Regions from separate parts of the Homo sapiens genome. Here all the other regions are linked to region 2. Evidence: fine-mapped expression QTL. A gene starts in region 2. Each other region holds a variant in brackets. All regions are shown on one strand. Distances are between the middles of the regions. Region 1 has its middle 43 kb from the start of ZNF536. Region 2 holds the start of ZNF536 (zinc finger protein 536). Region 3 has its middle 160 kb from the start of ZNF536. Region 4 overlaps ZNF536 (zinc finger protein 536).

The links. PIP is the estimated chance that this variant, and not a neighbour inherited with it, causes the effect.
Region 1: its variant is the best candidate, but not a certain one, in a credible set for the expression of ZNF536 in thyroid (GTEx, PIP 0.87).
Region 3: its variant is the best candidate, but not a certain one, in a credible set for the expression of ZNF536 in fibroblasts (GTEx, PIP 0.77).
Region 4: its variant is the best candidate, but not a certain one, in a credible set for the expression of ZNF536 in lung (TOPMed, PIP 0.85).

The regions. Positions count from the first base shown.
Region 1 is chr19:30,326,874-30,332,045 of GRCh38, forward strand. It overlaps a transcript of ZNF536 not described here. Among named protein-coding and RNA genes, the nearest start is that of ZNF536, 43 kb to the right of the region's middle. The variant T/G (reference allele first, on the strand shown) is at 2,579.
Region 2 is chr19:30,369,508-30,374,679 of GRCh38, forward strand. ZNF536 (zinc finger protein 536) reads left to right here and starts at 2,877. Exons shown (of 5, transcript NM_014717.3): 1 at 2,877-3,049. RefSeq lists an enhancer at 3,921-4,422.
Region 3 is chr19:30,212,029-30,217,200 of GRCh38, forward strand. No RefSeq gene overlaps it. Among named protein-coding and RNA genes, the nearest start is that of ZNF536, 160 kb to the right of the region's middle. The variant C/G (reference allele first, on the strand shown) is at 2,812.
Region 4 is chr19:30,400,827-30,405,998 of GRCh38, forward strand. All of the region lies in intron 1 of ZNF536 (zinc finger protein 536), which reads left to right. Among named protein-coding and RNA genes, the nearest start is that of ZNF536, 31 kb to the left of the region's middle. The variant A/G (reference allele first, on the strand shown) is at 2,985.

The DNA of each region.
Region 1 (5,172 bases), 43 kb before region 2:
GAGGCGGGAGGATCACTTGAGCCCAGGAGTTTGAGACCAGTCTGGGCAACATAGGGAGACACCATCTCTACAAAAAATTAAAAAGTAACCAGGTATAATGGCACACACCTATAGTCCCAGCTACTCAGGCGCGGTCTTATTGATTTGGGTGTTGTTGCTTCAGCCCAGCAATAACTGGAGGCTGCAGTGAGCCTTGATTGCACCACTGCACTCCAGTCTGGGCAACAGAGAAAAACCCTGCCTCTAAAAATAAATAAGTTAATTCATTAATAAAAATAAAAAGCCTTTTTTCCCCCTTATGCAATTTAATCTCCTGTTTGCTTACAGCCTTTTGTTAAAGGACACAGCATTGTTGAAATTAATCCAGGAGGAGTGCATATTTCCTCGGGCTTGGGGTTCAGACCTCGGGCTCAGGGCCCCAGAATTTACACCAGCTTTGAATGACTGAGGTCTGACTGAACCCTGCCCCATCCAGAGAGGTCCATCCCATCCCGGACTTCCTCTGAGAATCCAGGCTCTTCTCTGTGAACAGTTATTTTATGAGGAAAGTGGGGTGTTTTCTAGGCCTGTGTTTGATTTTCACTTATAATTATCTCCACATAAGACTTCAATTTTGGATTTTGAATTGGAGACACATGAACCCAGCTTTGCATGTTGAAAGATCAGTGACAAAAGTCACATGACATTTGCATGCCGTAATTGTTCCTGCGAACCCTTCAGCAGGCTTTGTTTGGAAGTTCTGGAAACCTGCATGAAGCAGCCATGCACCCTTCATTTGGGAGGTGTCTTTCATGCATTTAGCTTGGGTTTGGGTTTCTGTGTTCACATCTCAGTCCTTCCAAGTGAAGGAAGCTCTTTTTCAGTTCTTCTCAGATCACACTCTTGGATCTCCTAAGACCCTGGTGTTCATCCCTCTCACCTCTGCGGCCTGAGCTGTGGAATTGTTATCCTTTGGGCAATGTCTTTGTCCTCTGATGAGTGGAGTTAGGAACGATGATGACTTTTAAGGTTGGAGAACGGGGTTATATTACCCAGTCAGTAGAATGAGCAGGCGGGATCAGCCTGGGCTCCTGGAGCCACCATTACTAGTGGGGACAGGTCAGACTCTGTGCCCGTTTCCTCTTCTCTCAGATAGGGTGGAACCTGCTTTGTAAGGTGGGTGTGGATGAAATGAAATAATTCACATCAAATGCTTGGCAGAGGGCAGAAACCCTCGATTCACAACTCTGATGATGATCATGACTCTCATATTGGTTTATCAATGAACATGTGAACATGAAGGTGCCTTGTGTGTGTTCAGCTCTGCAGAACTCCCCAGGGGAGGTGGGGAGGCATTGCCCAGCTCCAGTGACCATGATGGCTGAAGAAGTGAGCAGAGAAAGACTTGGGCCTCCAGGAGCTCCTTGAGAAATAAACCGAGACTTCGGTGGAGGCCACACTTGGCCACAGCTACCCAAGGGCAACTTTGATTCTCATTCGAGCTCATGTCCCTATCACAGCAAAAGCTCTGCAGCCCCTGACAAGGCAGAAGAGGAACTCATGGGCCTCTGTGTAACCTGCTCTTGGGGCTCTCTGCTGCCCTTGATCTTCACTCAGAACTCCATGGTTCTCCATCATGGCCAGAGGGGAAGACTTGGCTCTTAATAATTGCGTATTCAATAAATGGTGATGCATTGTTCTGGCTGTCCACGTAGCCCTAACTAATCACTCAAGTTCCATTGGAATCATTTTGTAATGCAAATAGTTATTTGTACCACTTGTGTGTTTCAGAAATGAAGGTCTGATGTGATGATTCCACCCTATAGGAGGGAGAGATTTGCTGGACCCAATATCCACATGGCTCTCTCTGGAAAGATCGTGGCATGTTCATAGATGTGAATTGGGGTTCCTTTTGGATTTTCCTGCTGATCTTGAAGCTGGCGTTGCCAGGGGCTTGGTGTACTTGGACCTAGTTTGGTGGCTTTTAGACATTAGAGACCATCAAGAGGTACTTAGAAATATTGGCTGCTTTCATTTTGTTCTCGATTTCTCTCTCTCACTTTTCTACTCCTCCCTTTCCCCCTGCAACAATAGAATTTTGCGGCATCATCAGAGTGAGAGATGGGAATTAGCACTGTAGAGAGGGATACCCTCATGCAAGGGAGCTCTGTTGGGTTTTGTTCAAACGGATCTTCTTTGAGGGGTTGCTTTGCAAATGTCGGTGTGTCAAGAAGGCCAACAGCTATCTAAGAGAGGCCTCTTAGCCCTCAAGAGTCCCTCTCGGGCTCTCAGTAGACAAACACCTGTCCTAAGCCACCTCTGAGAACATGGGCCACACAACAGCAAGTGAACAGAACAGAGCCTTTATTGAGACAGGTCCGAAAGGACTGGAGCAATCAGCTTACAGGGAACATTTTTGCTTCGTAGGAATGCGGTCCTGCTTGCTGAAAACATATCCTTTGTACAGAGAACACACATAATCCTAGGTCAACTTTGCCCTTTGAAGAAAAATATGCTCAGCTGGAATTTTGGAGGTGGGGGGCTGGGGAATGGGAGGTGGGGAGGAATCTATTCTACAGAATATCTGTTCTACAGAATA[T/G]CTGCTTAGAGCTAGAACCTTCAAAGGAGTTAAGTTTTTGGAGTTCTGTTCTATAAAGTGTGTGGGATCAACCAATACAATGCAACAGCCATGAAAGTGATGATGAAATTTTATTTAAGAGAACATCTAAATTATGTTTAAAGTTCTTGTTGGAACTATCTTTTGCAAAGATAGTTCCAGACCTTGGAAAGCCCAGGCGTGATACAGACAAAAGTTTATCAGGCCCCTCTCCCTCTCTGCACCCAGCTGTACTATTTGGTGGTGCTATGTGTTCTTAAGGTCATGTCAATATTTCCATTAAAACACACATTTTTAAAATGGAGATTTATTACTCTGACAGGATAGTTTGCTCTGGGGCATAAGTTAACTTACTGGGTCTACACTTGGTGGGGGGATACTTTCTCTACCAAATTTCTGAGGAAAAATCAGAATTGATTTGGGAATTATTGTACTGTGCTACTTGATTTTCAAAAAATATCCATTGAGCAGAATGGACTAAAATATTGCAAAGTAATATGGTTTAGGTGATAATTTATAATCTTATGATTTAAATGAGATGCTGTATTTGAAAGCACTTATTTTCATGCCTGGTATACAGTAGGCATTCAATAAATACTACTTTGGTCCTATGATTACTACTATGATTACTCCCGTCACCACCACCACCACTACTAATTTCTTTGAGTTGGGTTAATATGGAGTAATAGATCACATACTTTATTCATCAGAAAGCTGGGAGGCGCCAGGTGCCCACATGTTAAATATTAACTGTGCTAAATTCGATCATGTAGAAGTTTGTGGCCAATAGTATTATATTAAAATAAATTTGGTACTGTAAGCAACTTGGACAAAAGTTGTGGAACCGAGGCAGAAACTCACTCTTGAGTGGTCAGTTTCTTGCACACTGGGTTATGTGTCACTGGCATTTTAGGGCATTTTCACTTTACATCTGCCTTTGTTTGGTGAGAAACTTTGCAGTTTTCTGGGCTGCAGGGGGCATTGGAGGGACTGAGAGGACACTCGACTTTGGAGCTGGGGATGGGGAGGCCTCGTTACAAGCCTTGCTTTGCTACCAGTGGATTTAGAAAAGGTTACATTGCCACTCTGGGCCTCAGGCTCCCATTTCTAGGAGGTAAAGTAGTCTATGGCTGTCTTACTCTGACGTTTGGGCTCTCCCAGGCCATATCTGTGAAGCAACAGCTGGTGGTCTGGCTTCACTGACCCTCCTGCTCTCAAGACATGGCCATTGTAGACATGTACTCATTCGGGATCAGAAAGGAATGGAAGCAGGTGGCCAGGGAACTTCGAGGCATTGAAGTGGAGTCCATTTTTCGGTCCTGAGGGCTCCTAGCCTGAGAAAGCTTGACCTGTGGGTCAGTGAAGCCCTTGCTTGAGCCAGCAGAGAGTTAGGACCTCTGATTCTCAAAACATAACTTCACTGCTCCGCTCACACAATTGCAGTCAAGGAATTGAGGACTAGAGGTTTCAGTCCCTACTGCACTTCCAGCAATGGACTGGGAAAATCAGGCTCAAGTCATTGATACTGGTAAATAAAAGGGCCTTATTTCACCTGTAATCCCAGCAATTTGGGAGGTCAAGGCAGGAGGATCGCTTGAGGCCAGGAGTTCAAGGTCAGTCTGGGCAACATAGCAAAACCTCATCTCTACAAAAAATTTAAAAAATTTAGCCAGGCATGGTGGCATACACCTGGGGTCTCAGCTGCTTGGGAGGCTGAGGCAGGAGGATTGCTTGAGCCCAGGAGTTTGAGACTGCAGTGAGCTATGATCACACCACTGCACTCCACACTCCAGCCTGGGGAACAGAGTAAGACCCTGTATCTTAAAAAAAAAAAAAAAAAAAAAAAAAAAAAGAATATTATTTGTCTTTATGACAGATGACCATTTCTTACTAGATAATTACTGAATACTATAAATCTTAGATCTCTTCTGTCTCTGCAGTGGTCATGCTGATTCCCCATCAGATTTGTTTGCCAAGTGACTTGAGGAGATCTCTTGTAAGGAGGTCACCAATGTCCTTGATTCTGGTGTCACCGTCTCCTGAGGTGTGTGTTCACTCCGAGTTTCTGCAGGTCTGTTGGCCAGTGACATTGACCAAGAATGTCAAGGTCATGCATCCAACAGGCTGGACTTTGCTTCCTTGACCTTCTCAGCTCAGTAACTTTTCTTCCACTTGACCTTAGCCATCCATTTCAGATCCACACCCAGGCTTGACAGTGACCAACACCTGAGCTCCTCTGAAATCTGGTCTTCACCCATCCTATGATGAGTCCATCACTGCCTTTCCCTCCAAATCACTGTTTGTGATGCCTCCACTGTCAATCATTGGTGTGCTCACCCAGGGACCCTTCAGCTTCCTCCCTGTCCCCTGCAGGGGACCTTGTCTTCCCGCTGCCCTTCACCCAGTGGGGAGATCATGGTCCATCATTTTCATCACTTCCTTGCACCCATTATCAGCTCTTAGCTCTGTGGCATGTTTTCTTTTTGTCTCATGCACCTGATGAATCTTCAGTCCCGGGTGAACTCAGATATCTCCCTTTTCCATGCCAGTTCCTTGCACCCCAGCTCTCCAGGAGA
Region 2 (5,172 bases):
AGTCTAGATGTTGCTGTCACTGTCCCGGGGTGTGGTTTTTGACTGGCTGTTGCTTTGACCTGGCAAATAAAAATTGTAAAGGAAAAGACAAAATTCTTCCACAAATTGCAAAGGGATGAATTATGACATTATTTTCTCCCTGTACCATAAGATAAGCAGGTTCTCCTCTGAAAATACATGTGTGCATAATTGAATATTGTTAACCTGGGTCTGTTCTGTAATTCTTGAGCAATTTTTTTTTAGAAGGAAACCAACTCAGGAGTTTCTTCAGTGGCTGCAATCAGAATAAAGTGTTTCCACTTTTAGATTAAGAGAAAAAAAAACAGTAATAGGCTGGGCTGTTATTATGGAAAGTTTATTATTATTGGTACATAAGCTAGCTGGGGGTTTAAGCACAGAGCAGTTGGATAATTTAGCTAGCTCCTGGATCCAATTAAAAAAAATATATGTTGTGTCCACAGTGGGGGGATGGCCATCGCTGAGAAAGCACTCTAACGTGGATGGTGACACACCTGTGGCATTCTCTTGGTTATACGCAGTTTGGGATGCAGAATGCTGTAAATCCTCTCATTACTGCCTTAGAGAAGGCAGACACTTCAAACAGTTCTCCATTTATCTGAGATTACCAGTTAAACTCGTTAAAAAGCAACTATGGCTTGTTCACTCAATTGGCTGTTGGGAAGATTTCTGTGTTCTGTAGCAATGGCGACAGCGTGGCTTTGATTAGTGGAGTGCTATACTTTTTAGGGGAGACCTTTTCTAACTTAATTTATGACTCTGGTTGAATGGCGTCTGTGCTGGGGTATTACGTATTTCCCCAACTATTGTACCTGATGTCAATAAAGGTGCATTTAGGGAAATTTGAACTAAAACCCCAGGGTGTTTTTGTTCTTTGGGGAACCAATGCGCCATAAACATTTTGAACTTGAGCCAACAACCTCCCCTGACCATGATTGCAAATTACTGTAGAATGTATGGATTGCTGGCGGAACACTATTTGAGGAAACCTGTATTTTATAGAATGTCACTTTTATGCACAATCCAGGCAAAACAGAGGGGAAAAAAACTAATTTAAACAGCAGACAGTGTTCTCTTGAATGAAGATTATGACAAAGAATGTTATAAAAATCAAGCTCTAAATATGGCTTTTTATTTAATCATTATTACATCAATCATCAATATCAATACTTAACAGCAAGCTGATAATGTAGCCAGTAGGTGAAACAGCTATTAAAAAGTGTAAAAAAATGATTAATCAGGTACGGGGGATATTAATGCCCTCCAATTATTAAATGATAAGTACGTATTTTTGGAAGTGTTTGTTTTTAATAATCAACTGTAATATTAGTTTGCAAAAACGTAATTGCTTCTTAATTTTGCATTTTAGCTTCTTTGTGCTGGGTACAAAGGTAGTATGTTTCTGTAGTTATTGTTTGCAGCACTCCGTGTAAAAAATCACGTTCATTTCAAGAAGCTGTTATGGTATTGATTGTGGTAAAGACTTCCATTAACTGACCAATCTAAATCTCATAAGTGATGTCAGGATAGTTATGCATTTGCTTGGTTCAAGTATTCAGCCATTATGTTAGAATGCAGGCAGTGTCTGAATATGGCTGTTAAATTATTTCTAAATACCGAACCAGAACAGCTTAACAGTTCTGCAGTTTGAGACTGACACAAAAATGACAATCTGCCACCTCTTTGTTTTTTAAATATTAACGCTGTATTGGGATAGTATTTTTGGAGTAAAAACCTGTGGCACGAGAGGATAAGTGACATAAACAAAGGCAGCTGGGCTTCATGAAATAATGGAACAATAAGGCCTTTGCAGCCGCTCTCATCACTCCAGTATGTTAATTAGCATTCTGTTGTGGCCGCAACACTGAAAACATGTAATCTGTATTGGTGTACAGTACAGCTGTGAACACACATTCTTTTTTGTGAGTCCCTGGAGTTAGCCTTGCCATTGGCATATGCGTTTGGGCCAAAAGTCAAGCCATCACCACTAAAATAGCACACCATAGCAGCAAAATGTCATTTGTCTTTTCTTGTTTTTTTTTTTTTGTTTTTTTTTTCTCTCCCCTCAATGCCACATGCTATCCAGTGATGTAATCTAGTATCACTGCATCTGCCTCCCTGCTGTATTTTTGCAGGAGGGTATCTGGATATCTGTAGGGGAAAGGAGGGGGCATTGCCAGCCAGCAGGAGATGGAAAAGGCAGCGGCCCCAAAAGAGTCAAATTAGAAAATAAATTATTTCTTTTTGCATTATATGTTTAAATGCATATATAGAGAATATATATATATATATGCATATATATGTGTGTGTGTATATATATAAAGAGAGAATATATATACATTGAAGAATCTATGCATTTAATATCTGCCACCTTTTTGCATAGATTCTTCCTTAAGTGTCATGAAACTAGAATCCGCTGCTTGTTTTCGTAAGGTAAAAGAAGGGCAGTTAATTTCAGCACCAAGGCTTGGAGGAAATGAGACCTAAGAAAAAAGAATCAGAGTAAAATTTACCCTTATTTATCATTTCTATTTAGAACTGGGTTGACAGTCTTTCATGCATGTACTTAGGATGGGATTGGCTCTTCCCATTTCAGAGCTGACAAAACTGAGGCTGAGGCATGGTCCAAAGATGGGCCCTAATTGCAGGGCCTTTCTGGCCTCTGTACAGAGAGAGTGAAAACAATTGGTCATTTTGAGGGAAAGGGGTTAGCACCAGTGAGCAGAGGCAGTTAGTAGCTGGGAGCAGTGACTCCAGCCTTCAGAGGCAGGACTCAGAAAGGCCTCTCTTGTGTGATTTTGCTGCTCACACGTGGCCTGCTGGGAGCCGCCCCTGGTACTGCCGGGACACGGCCCTGGGATTTTGCTGAGGCCAGCTTTGGAACAGGGGAGGTGAGTCTGGAGAAGAGAGTTTCCACGTTGTCATCATAGGATCTGGACTCAAGTGACCAAAACCTTGCTTGGATTTTTACCTGATGAAGTTTGTCTTGAAAAGTGAAAATGGTTCCATTTCCATTTTCCCTGTTCTCAAGGTAATTCAGCTTTCTTTGTGTGTGAGTGTGTGAGTGTGTGCAAGTGTGTGTGCGTGCAGTCTCCCCAGCATAGAACACCCACACATGCACCCACCCACATGCAGACACGCACATACTCATGCATGGATTCTTGTTCACGAAGTACACACCCTTTTGCAAAATAATTTTTGAATAAAAAATTATAGCCCTTTAAATTTATTATAATTTAGAAAGGGACCATCCGATGGTTAAAACTTTTCCTATAATTCCTACATTAATTCTCTCCATCACCCGCCCCCCCCATCTAATCTGACTGTACCAAAAGATTTGAAAACAAAGCAAAAACACCAACCAACCAAACAAAACAACCCACCTGCTTCTAAAGTAACTTTCAGACTCCCTGGGCAAAGATTCTTGTCTCTTTCTGAAAGATGAGCATGAATTCTGAGCTCCAAATTTTGCTTTTAATCTGTCTCCAACCTAATTGAAAAATTACCATACCACACAAAGAAAACTCCGCATCGGGATCACCATGCTGATCCAATTGGGTTCTGCTTTTTGACGTTAGAGAAATCAAATTGTCTGGCGATTTGGTGACATGCTTGAATGTCCACCTGGGAGAAGACTAGGTTAAAAGTTAATAGCACTTGTGCTTTTCTTCCCCCCGACCTTTTTTTAAACTCCAGTAGAACGGAACTCTTCCCCACTGGCCAGGCCCTCATCCTGAATCCCTTGTCCAGCCTGGAGGTCTTCTGAGAGTTCTCAGTTGGCACCTTTCCCCTGACTTGTCCCTGTGAGGTAAGGCAGGGCTGACACTGAGATTTTAGTTCTGTTGTTCTTTTTTTTTTCCTAGAAATTCACACCCCCCACCCCTTGGTTAATGGCTCTTTAAATATTGAAATGCCTGGAAAAACAAAACAAAATAAAATAAAATGCAGCCTGTCAAAGAAATAAGAACAACAACAACAAAAATGTTGGTATCTTTTAGAATGTGTCTTCCTAGTGGTAAAAGTATATAATTAATAGGAGAATTTTCCTCCAGATGTGGCTATACTATAATAGAGCCTTATAAATGCTACAGAAAGAAAAATTGCTTGGAACGAAGGCGTCCTCAATGAGAGCACACCTGGGTCTGACAAAGATTGCATTTAGGGACTGCTGTGCTATCACAACGCAGAGAAAGACCAAGTCTCTGGGAGCAGCTGGAGAGAAAGCCCCGGCAAATCTGCATGCAAATAGCAGCACATTGTTAACTTAATCAGATGCCGAGGAAAGATGTGCCAGAATTCCAGGATGATCTACACACACGGAGGAGGAGCGGCCTGAGCTGCAGTGGGAGCCGGGGCCAAGGTGGGCCTCAGCAAGGTGCACGCGGCCCGGCCCCAGCCCCAGGGCCGCAGCCCACCCGCCGCCCGCCTGTTTTCCGGGCCTGCAGTCAATTCACCACATAATGCCCGATTCGCTCTTTGCAAAGATAGAAACGATAGAGCGTATTTCAATGGGATGGAAGCTTTATTATTATTATTTTTTAATGGTGATATAGGTATGGGCATTATTTCGCCTGAGTCCGTAACTCCAATTAAATAATATTTCTGCTTAAATATCCGGGTGCATGAAGATAAGAAATATTGCCCTGGAGTGTATAAAGAAAGAGTTTTTTTTTCAATAAGAAAAGTAGTTCTCTATAGGTTGAAGTGCTGGGTATAAATTGCACCTTAAGAAGAAGTGGAAGACACCTGTTATTTATATTTTATATTAATATTAATGGAAATATATATATCTTAAATCTCCATCTTTTAGTCTAGCACCGTAAAAAATATAAAGTAATACTATTTAATCACCCACAGCTTAATAGTGCCTTAGTTGTTTACTGCCATTGCACTAATTGCTCTGTACTAATGTGTTTTTCTGTGATATCCAGTAGTGCTAAGAGAACAGAGATCCATAACCAATTAAATATAGTGTTTTTTTTTAATGTTAAAAATATATCTGGTGAGGCTAGAAAAGGAATAGAAACCGCCCTGAAGAAAGGCGCCTTGGCACCGCCTCGGTGCCCACCAGAAGGTGCCCGGATTGCCTCTTTTGCGCAAAGACAAAGGGGGTAATTTTTTGGCAAGAAAACAAACCCAAGGAAAACACAACAA
Region 3 (5,172 bases), 160 kb before region 2:
TTCAGTGAGCTATGATGTTGCCACCACACTCCAGCCTAAGTAACAGAGCAAGACTCTGTCTCTGAAAACAACAACAACAAAGTTTGTTAATATGCCCATTGTATAAAATTTAGAAGACTCTGAAATCTATCAAGAACAAAAGTTAAATCACGATTAATCCCACCATCCAGAAACACCATTAATATGGGGGTGAATTTCTTCCCATACCTTTGTTTTTGTATTTTTTTGCATGTAAAATTTACATGCATAAATAAGTATGCATGATGCAGTTAGAGAAAAGAGGCTGCAAGGGAACTCACCCACGTGTTAATAGTGATTGTCCTTTGGTTAATTCACAGGGAATGTCGTGGGTCACATGCACGTCTTCAGAACGAGCATATTTATAGATGCATGCATAAAACAGGCATTGTGTTGTCAATAAAGTTTTGTACCCTGCTTTTTTTTGCTTTCCCCATCTGCTAGGTCTAATTAACCAAATAATTTTGATGACTGTAGGTTTTCCCAAATTCTAAAAATCGTCGTCTTTCACTGGACACTGGTGTTTTGTGGAATGTGGTATGCATTCGTTCACTCACTCACTCAAGAGCCACACGCTGAGTCCCTGTGAGGTGGCAGCTCTGTGCTCACTGCTGAGGACACCGAGAGGAAAAGTCCCGTCCCTGCCCGTGGAGAGCTCCTGCTTTAACGCTAATGGCCAGGCTGAGGCCGTGCATAGCAGACTTTAGCACGAGGACTCATGGAGTGTTTCTTGTCCCCACGGGGTGCAGCCCAGAGCTGGATGTGCACCACACTGGCGTGCAGCCTTCACTCTCCCTGACCAATGCAAATCCACCCTTCTCTCTTTCACAACATCCATGTCTTAGATGATACTTCGCACCCAAACCCTCCACGTGCAGGCAGCCTGCCCTCCCCCTTTCTCCCCCAGGAAAGCCCTCTCTTGGCTGGTGACTACATTCACAAGGTCAAGGACTCGAGTTGTTCATTTCGTCTTTAAACTCCTGGATTGTGACTTATTTCCGGTCTCCCAGGTGTGAGATTGATTCTTTTTTTTTTTTTTTTTTGAGACGGAGTCTCGCTCTGTGGCCCAGGCTGGAGTGCAGTGGCGCGATCTCCGCTCACTGCAAGCTCCGCCTCCCGGGTTCACACCATTCTCCTGCCTCAGCCTCCCGAGTAGCTGGGACTACAGGCGCCCGCCACCACGCCCGGCTAATTTTTTGTATTTTTAGTAGAGACGGGGTTTCACCATGTTAGCCAGGATGGTCTCGATCTCCTGACCTCGTGATCCGCCCACCTCAGCCTCCCAAAGTGCTGGGATTACAGGCGTGAGCCACCGCGCCCGGCCGAGATTGATTCTTAAAGGTAATCTTTTAAATGTTTTCCTCTGGGACTCGGCTTCCAGAATCTCAGTTCTGATGTGTTGCTTTTCGTAATGTAACAGGACACATTCTTAGACGGGGTGGGAGAGCCAGCGACAGAATTCGTCTGGCAAACGTTGTCTTATCCTGGGTTTATCCAGGTGTGCAGCTCTGTAGCCACTGTGTGCTGCTGAGGCGACACTTCCTCCCGGGGCACAGTGGGAAATGTGTTCCTCCTGTCCTCTATGGTAGATGCTTCTCACTAAGCCTGGGACTTCCAAGTGGCAGAGACATATCTTCTATCGTTAGAAAACCCTCACTTGCTTATGTACTCAGCCTAAAGCCCAGGTAGGTTAGAACAGAAACATCTGAGGGTATCGTGCAAGCCCTCAGCTCAGAACATTGTATCTGGGCCGGGCGTGGTGGCTCATGCCTGTAATCCCAGCACTTTGGGAGGCCAAGGCAGGAGGATCACTTGAGGTCGGGAGTTCGAGACCAGCCTGGCAAACATGGTGAAACCCTGTCTGTACTAAAAATACAAAAATTAGCTAGGCGTGGTGGTGGGTGCCTATAATCCCAGCTACTTGGGAGGCTGAGGCAGGAGAATCGCTTGAACCCGGGAGGCGGAGGTTGCAGTGAGCCGAGATTGTGCCACTGCACTCCAGCCTGGGCGATAGAGTGAGACTCAGTCTCAAAAAACAAACCAACAAACAAAAAACAAACCAACAAACAAAAAACAAACCAAAAAACCCAAAATCAAAACAACAACAAGAAAACATTGCATCTAGCTTCCTGGGGTGACTGGGTGGGTTTCATTCACAGTCCGGGCATCACAGCCATGGCAGCAGATGGTTGCTTGTAAAGGCAGTGTTGTGGGGGTACATTCAGGGGGGATGTAGCCATAACCTAATTTTGGGGGTTAACTTCTTTTGTTTTTTGAGACAGAGTCTTGCTCTGTTGCCCAGGCTGAAGTGCAGTGGCATGATCTCGGCTCACTGCAATCTCTGACTCCTGCTTCAAGCTATTCTCGTGCCTCAGCCTCCCAAGTAGCTAGGATTACAGTTATGTGCCACCATGCCTTGCTAATTTTTGTATTTTTAGTAGACATGGATTTTCACCATGTTGGCCAGACTGGTCCCTAACTCCTGACCTCAAGTGATCTGCCTGCCTCGGCCTCCTAATGTTGGGTTAACTTCTAACTACTCTAGTGATTCAGCTGATTGCTGCTGCTAGAAAGCTGGACTTTTTCTTACATTAGCAACTGTGTTTCCACCAGTCAGGATCAGGAAGGCCAACTTCCCTGCTGTACTTGTGAAAAGATGAATAAGTAATTCATAAAATATCTGTCCATAGCCCAATAGGCATTCCACAGAGATGACAGAAGACAGGCAAAGGGGCAAGAGGGAGCCCAGATGCAATGCAGTCCCCAAATCAAGTTCCCTTTTGTAAAGTGCGT[C/G]ACCTGCAAATGCCTATTGTGAAAGAGAAAGCGCATCACCCATGCTGTGGGTTCCTGACTCAGGCTGATGGGGAAAGCCAAAGCCATTTGTGACAAAAGCTAGGTGACAGGGGTAAGCCACTGGTTTGGGAGTTTGCAGTGAGGCCATTCTGAACCTGCAAAACCAGATCTGACAGTCTAAACGATTTACTAACAGGAAGTGCTCCGGATGCTGTGATGGACTTCTGTATTTACGTTGAATGAGTTGAATGAATGTCATAGGCAGAAAGAACTGCTCACTAGGGGGCCGGGACAGAGGCTGATGGAGATTCCCGTTAGCCAGGTGTGGAGCGGAGCCTCCAGGGCTTGCCAGGTATGCTGGAAACAGAACACCACACAAACATCTCTACAGCCCTGAAGTGCAAAGCTAAATAACATGGGACATTATGAAAACGACTGTCATTCTTATTTAATTTAGAAAATCCACATAAAACATGTACACATCATGAATAAGAATAGTAAAGGCCTATTATGTACCAGGTGCCATGCTAAGGGCTAATCCACTGAGTTCTCTAAACACGCTCTTTTTTCTTATGTGGAGGTTAAGGCACAGAGAGGTTATGTAACTTGCCTAAGGTCACACAGCTCTAAAATTTTGGAGCTGGGATTTGAACCCAGGTGGTCTGGCCTCAGAACCTGTGCTCTGCTGCTTTATGGTATTCTCCTCCCCTTCTCTTTTAGAGCAATAGAAAAATCACCACCATTGGCAAAAGTAACTCGAGGAGTTAGCAAGGGGTGAGGGGTCTGGGGAGATCTAGAAGCAGAGCTTCTGAGTGGGCAGCAGGCAGGGGAGTTGGAGCCCTAGAATGACTATATCAGGAATATTGGCTGGACACATACCTCCCTTGGATACACAGCCCATCTGGAGCTAAAGCAAAGAGATACATTGTTTTATTTGAAGCCAGCAAGGTTCAGTGGGCACTGAGAGACATCCCTGGGGTTCCCTAGAGCTGAAGGGTGAGCCGGGGACAACAAGAACCTGTTGAAAATGGCACCACCATCAGAATTAAAAGTCCAACTAATTTGGAGCAATAGTGACTGCCTAAGGTTTATCATCCTCTTATGAGTCTGTAAGGTAAGCCATAAAGCCTCCTGTGCATAAATGGGCAAAAGGCTGGAGGAGACACAGGAAGAGAAACAAATTGGGAAGAACAAGTTGGGGCAGCCTTTTTGGAAAGAAAGTTGGCAGCATCTAGGAGGGGCCCCAAAACCTTCATATGCACCGATCCAACTTCACCTCTGTCAGTGGATTCTAAGAAAACAAGCAGAGACGCAAACAAAGCTTTAACCATGAAAATGCTCTCTCCAATACTTCTAAGAGAACAACAACAACAACAACAACAAAATAGAAACAATTTAGATGCTCCAAAATAAGAGGTTGTTTAAATAAATTATGTTGCATCCATTTGATGGAACATTATGTAGCTATAAAATCATGTTTTCAAAGAATATTTAATGACATGGGGAGATACCTTGTGCTACAAGGTTAGAGAACAAAAGCAGGACACAAAATTGTTTATAAAAATGATTCAAAGTTTGCAAAAAATTGATATGCACAGAAAAATGCTCGGAAGGAAAGATACAAAAGGCTATCAGGGTGAGATTAAGAAAGATATAATCATCTTTGTACATTCCTGTGTTTTCTAATTATTCTTCAATGTGCATCAAGGACTACTTTATATCAGAGAAAAGAACCATTAATTTTAAAGTGTTGCAACTAATTTCTAGTGGTGGCAACACATTTTAAGCAATGCTGTTCATATGTGCATTCATTCATTCATTCATTCATTCATTCATTCATTCATTCAGTGGTCAGTGTAGGTAAAGTGCTTAAAACAGTGCCTAGCCGGTTGCAGTGAACCGAGACTGCACATTGCACTCCAGCCTGGGAGACAGAGTGACGCTCCGTCTCAAAAAATAAAAAAACAGAACAAACAAACAAAAAAATCCCACAAAAAAACAACAAACAAAAATAAGTGCCTGGCACATAGTATGAATTATTTAAGTGTTAGATATGATTCATTAATTTCTTTTTTTTCTTTTTTTAGAGGCAGATATCTTACTGCGTCATCCAGGCTGTAGAGCAGTGGTGAGATCACAGCTCACTGCAGCCTTGAACTCGTGGGCTCAAGCAATCCTCCTACCTCAGCCTCCTGAGAAGCTGGGACTACAGGCGAGTGCCACCAGACCCAGATAATTATTATTATTTTTATTTTTTTTAGAGACAGGGTCAAGCTATGATGCCCAGACTGGTCTCAAATTCCTGGCCTCAAGAGATCCTCCTGCCTCAGTATTAGTTTCTTGATTAGTTCCATCAACATT
Region 4 (5,172 bases), 31 kb after region 2:
AGCAGGGTTTTCTGCAGAGCAAAAAATTTAATTTTGACAAAATCCAATTTATTAATTTTTCCTTTTGTGAATTTTACTTCCGGTATCATATTTAAGAACCATTTGCCCAGGACCTAGGTTCCTATGATTTTTTTCCTATATTATCTTCTAAAAGTTTCATAGTTTTATGCTTTATATTTACATTTGTAATCCATGTTTTGTGTAAGATATGAGATTTAGGTCAAGGTTCTCTTTTTGTTGTTGTTGTTGTTTGTTTATAGATATCCAGTTGTTCTAGCTCCATTTGCTGCAAAAAACTCTCCTTCCTTCATGGAATTGCTTTTGCATCCTTGTCAAAAATCAATTGGCCTTACCTGTGTGGGGGGCTACTTCTGAGTTGTCCATTCTGTTCCATTGATCTATCTATTTTTTTTCTTTTACGAGATGGAGTCTCACTCTGTCACCTAGGTTGGAGCTCACTGTAGCCTGGAATTCCTGGGCTCCAGCTATCCTCCTGCTTCAGTCTGGTCTACATATCTTGATATTTGAGAATAAGAAAGAAGGACTTCAAGATCCGGGTTAGACTCCCCATGTCCCAGTACCTCTGGCCTCCACCAAGAATGGATGTGAGCACTGGAACTGGGCTCACCACCCCAGTGGGGTTTGCTCTGCACAGGAGCACGTGTGAAGGACTTTACCCACTGCTTTCTCTACCACATTCCCCAGACACTACTGTTTTGGGTCTCTTTTCATTTCTTTTCCTTGCTTACACATGTTCTCAGATTAAAGTGGGATTTTCTGAAACAGATTTTTTCTATAATGGGGTAAAAACCGTAAGTAAACAGAATTATCATAACCATTTAAATAGTAATAAAATATGTTTTTCTATTTCTATTCAAAGAGGGGGAAAGGTAACTGGAGAAGATGAAAGGAAAAGCTAGATTTGTGGGTGGTAGGTGTGTTTTCTTCTTCTTCAACAACAGGTACAGAGTTTTAGTAAAGGACTTCAAGGGAAAAGGAAAAAAATAGCATATACTGTTATGGGGTTATTTTTATCTTTCATTTTTGTGACAACTTATTTGTACTTAAGAGAATCTTTCCAAAGAGTTAGAAGCATCATTAAATAAAGACTGTGAAATGTGCAATATGGCTTATTTATTTAAATGTTAATTGGTCCAACGAACACTTCTAATTAGCTCTATATTTGCTTAGCAAAAAGTTTTACAAATTCCAATTGTGAAAAGCAGCTATTTTGAGCTGGTAAGCATGTTGCAGCCTCAGCTATGATTTTTCTATAGTTCTCAGCCCTTGAAGGCACAATTTAATTTTTCATGTATGCATACTAGCAACGGTAAACACTTGCGAGTGTAAAGAACCTTCTTTAATTAGCTGCACAACAATTAAAGGATTCACAAACTAAATTGAACCCTGTCTCGGTGCTTACTAGCTGAATTCTACCACCTGTCACAACAGCACTTTGTTCAATCTGTTATGCAAAATCATTATAGCAATATAGTGGAGGGGAAAAAAAAAGAGAAAACAGCAATTATTTCTTACTTTTCTCTTGAATGGGTTATTTTGGGTTATACTGATGTCAGGTTCATTGAAGCTAACCTTTTGAAATCTGTAACAGCATAATACTTCTAAGGCAGTCTCAGAATGGCTGGAAGAATATTCCATTTTACGCTTTTAGGAGGAAGCAGCATTCATTTCTTTCCTCCTAAAAGTGCTGGAGACTCTGATCATTTGAAACAACCTGTTCTACCTCTCCCAGCCACCTTCCATTTGCCTTTTTTCACCGGGAACCCTGTACGGCTCGACAGGCTTCTGTGTTTTAAAAGCTTGCAAACCGCGGCCGACGTGGGTTTAAAGATGCAATTCTCAAACTGCCGCCTCCAGAGCATCTCGAGTCATATTACTTCATAAGCCCAGTGACTTACTGTAAAAACATGTGTGTTGCTTGCTTTTTAAACATTTTTTAAAATTAAAAAATATATATATATATATATATATATATAATTTTCAAAAATTTGATTTAAACTAAACTGCTCTCCTGTTTAGACTGGGTCGGAGGGGAATGTTACCCCCACCCCACCCTGGCCATTTGCAGAGACAAAGGCTTTATTGTGAGGCCCAAACCCAAAGCCTGACATGACAGACTTCTCCCTGGAGTCAAGGAATAAATGTTTACATTTGGTGTTGCCGTGCCCTGGCCCCCTGGTAGGAATGCCTGCAACTCTGGGCTTTCACATACAGAAGGGATGGGGAGGGATGCTTTGCGGAGGAGAACACCGCTGCTGACGAGCTGCACTTTGAGATGCTGCCTGGCATTGCTTAAAATGGCATCAATAACATATTGTTAGTCCCAGCCTCCAAAGCATATGTGATCTGGCCATTTCAGACGTCGGAGTGACTGTAGACAAACCGCTGAGCTCAGTCAGAGGGTCTGCATTCTCCCACATTACAATATTTTTTATAAGTTGTTCTTTACATCATTTCAGGAAAATGCACAACGCAGACAAGGCAGGCCTTTGAAAATCTAAACTCTTTCCCTGAAAAAATGCTGAAAGGAGGAAAGTGAGAGCCAAAGGTCAAAGGCTGCGCAAGAATGTGTTTCTCTATTTTTCCTATTTCTTAAGCAGAGGAAACTGTCATCGTTGTGGCATTTGGGTAAGAAGGACTATCTCCAATCAGGTCCAGGAGGGAGAATTTGAAGTCTACAGGGGCTTCTCTCTTCTTTCTGCTGAAATCCAACTCTTTGGCTGGTCCAGGGCTAGTGCATGGAAACTAAAGTGAGCTGCTATCCGCTTTATTGAAGTTGGTGAAATGCATACCTCCTGCAAACTTGCAGCTCTAGAAAGAAGACCCACTTGCTGTCTTCCACAGCCTCCCTGTCTGCTGCTGCACTCGGCTGCAGTTTTATTGCCAGAGTCTCCAAGTGCAAGGTCCAGCTGCTCTTTGTCCCTGGGCATGCTGTCCCCCTCGTTCTTCCTGTGCTCTTGACA[A/G]CGGTGTCTGCACCAGGCTTTTGATGGGAGGCTGCTGTTGCCTTCAGGGATGGGATGGTCACATAGTAGGCTCTCAGTGAACATCTGGTGATGACCGTAAATGTAATCTCCACTTGGCCGAAGAACTCATGGGAATTGAAGGGTGGATTCAGGCAATTTAAGCCCTTCAGCATTCCCCTCTACATTTTTTTCTTTCCTTTCCTTTCCTCTTTTTTTTTTTTTTTTTTTTCTGCTGTTCATTTAGAATCTCCTCATCACGGTGCACTATTTGTTCCATCCCACGTTTCTTATTGCTAGTCTTGCAAGGGAAGATGGTAGGTAGAAGAACTGTAGCGTAAGGCCAGCGTTGCCCACGCAGGGCCTGCCTACCTTGTGCTCAGACCTGGGTTGGGCACAAAGGGGGCCATCCTGCCTTCAAGAGGCTTCTAGTCTGGGCGCAGAGCCCAGACTCCCCAAGGAAATGTGGAGACAGCCTTGGTGTAGATTCTGTATTTGGGGCAGGCCAGAGGGGGACACTGTTTTCTGGCACCCCAGCATCCCTGGAACTCCAGCATCCTCAACTGCAGGCCACTTGAGGTAGTGATGGCTTAGCAGTGAGGCGCATGGCATGTGGAGACAGGCAGTCTGGGGTTCAGTCCCAGCAATCTAGTGATCAGATGTGAAACTTTAGGCAAGTTATTTAACCTCTCTGTGCCTCAGTTTCCTCAACCATAAAACGAATATGATAGTAGTAAAACTCACTGATAGAGTTTGAGAATTATGTGAAGGCACTTAGAACAGGACTGAGTGCCCAGGAAGTACCACGTTAGTTACCATTGCTGTTTGTTTCTAGAAAACTCTCCAACCATGATTTTCCTCTTCTCTTATACTACAACCACAGTCATCAACACAGAAGAAGACTTCTGTGACCAAATGTCCGGAGGCGGGGGGGCTCCTCAACACACCCAGCAGTGGACACCAGCTGGGTGTCCCCAATTCAATTCTGCCACCATCTACCCAGAGATCCCACAGGTTGCGAGCTCAGTCCCCAAGACGGTCCTGCCCCAGGCACCAGTTGCAAGTCCAGGCCTCACGAACTTCTGACCAACAGGCTTCACGTTGGGGTTCCCATGACCCCCTCTTTGGGTCCTATTAATTTGCCGGAGCAGCTCATGGAAACATTTACTTATGTTTACCAGTTTATTATCAACAATATTACAAAGGATGTGGGTGAAGAGAGGCGTAGGGGAATGTATGGGGCATGGTGGGGAGCTTCCACGCCTTCCCTGGGCACCACTGTCCGGGAACCTCAAGGCATTCAGCTATCCCGAAGCTCCCAGAACCCAGTCCTCTTGGGTTTTTAGGGAAGCTTCATGATGTCATACATATCCTTCAGAATATAGGGTGAGACCCTCTTTGGGGAGGGTCTTAAGACCCCAAGTCAGAAAGATGGGGGAAGATTAGAGTCCTGCCTTGGGGCAGGTGAAAGGAGGTCAGAAAAAGATCAGAAATATTCTGTTTCCTGAGGCCTAATACTGCCAACATTACAACAAAAGACTCTGACAGGGACCATGGGAGTTATGAGCCAGGAACTGCAGACAAAACCTATGTATATATAATAACACCGCACTGCTACTTCCTGAACTTGGGGTCTCCCTGTGCCTGAACTCCATAGGTTCTGAGATTCAACAGAACCTTAGGAAACCATCTCCTAGCTCCTGGCTTCAGGCTTGATGGGTCTGATGAGCCATCAGACCAGAGTCTTCCAGGGAAAGCTTCTCCATGGGTACCAAACCATTTAAGACTGCACTTCTCCCTTGCCTCTTGATACTGTTTATGGGCGCAGTGTTGTAGTCTAGAAGGTGGATTTTCAGAACCGGTGTGATCAGTCGCCACACCCGAATCGTTTTCCACCTTTGCATCCTGCCTACTGGAAATTGGATTACTTACTGAAGAATGTGGAGGCCCTTGATGCAGAGGCACTGTTAACATTTTTTTTTTTTTTTGAGATAGAGTCTCACTCTGTATCCCAGGTTGGAGTGCACTGGCACAATCTCCACTCACTGCAACCTCCACCTCCTGGGTTCAAGCGATTCTCCTGCCTCAGCCTCCCGAGTAGCTGGGATTACAGGCACCCGCCAACACACCCAGATAATTTTTGTATTTTTCGTAGAGACGGGATTTACCATGTTGTCCAAGCTGGTCTTAA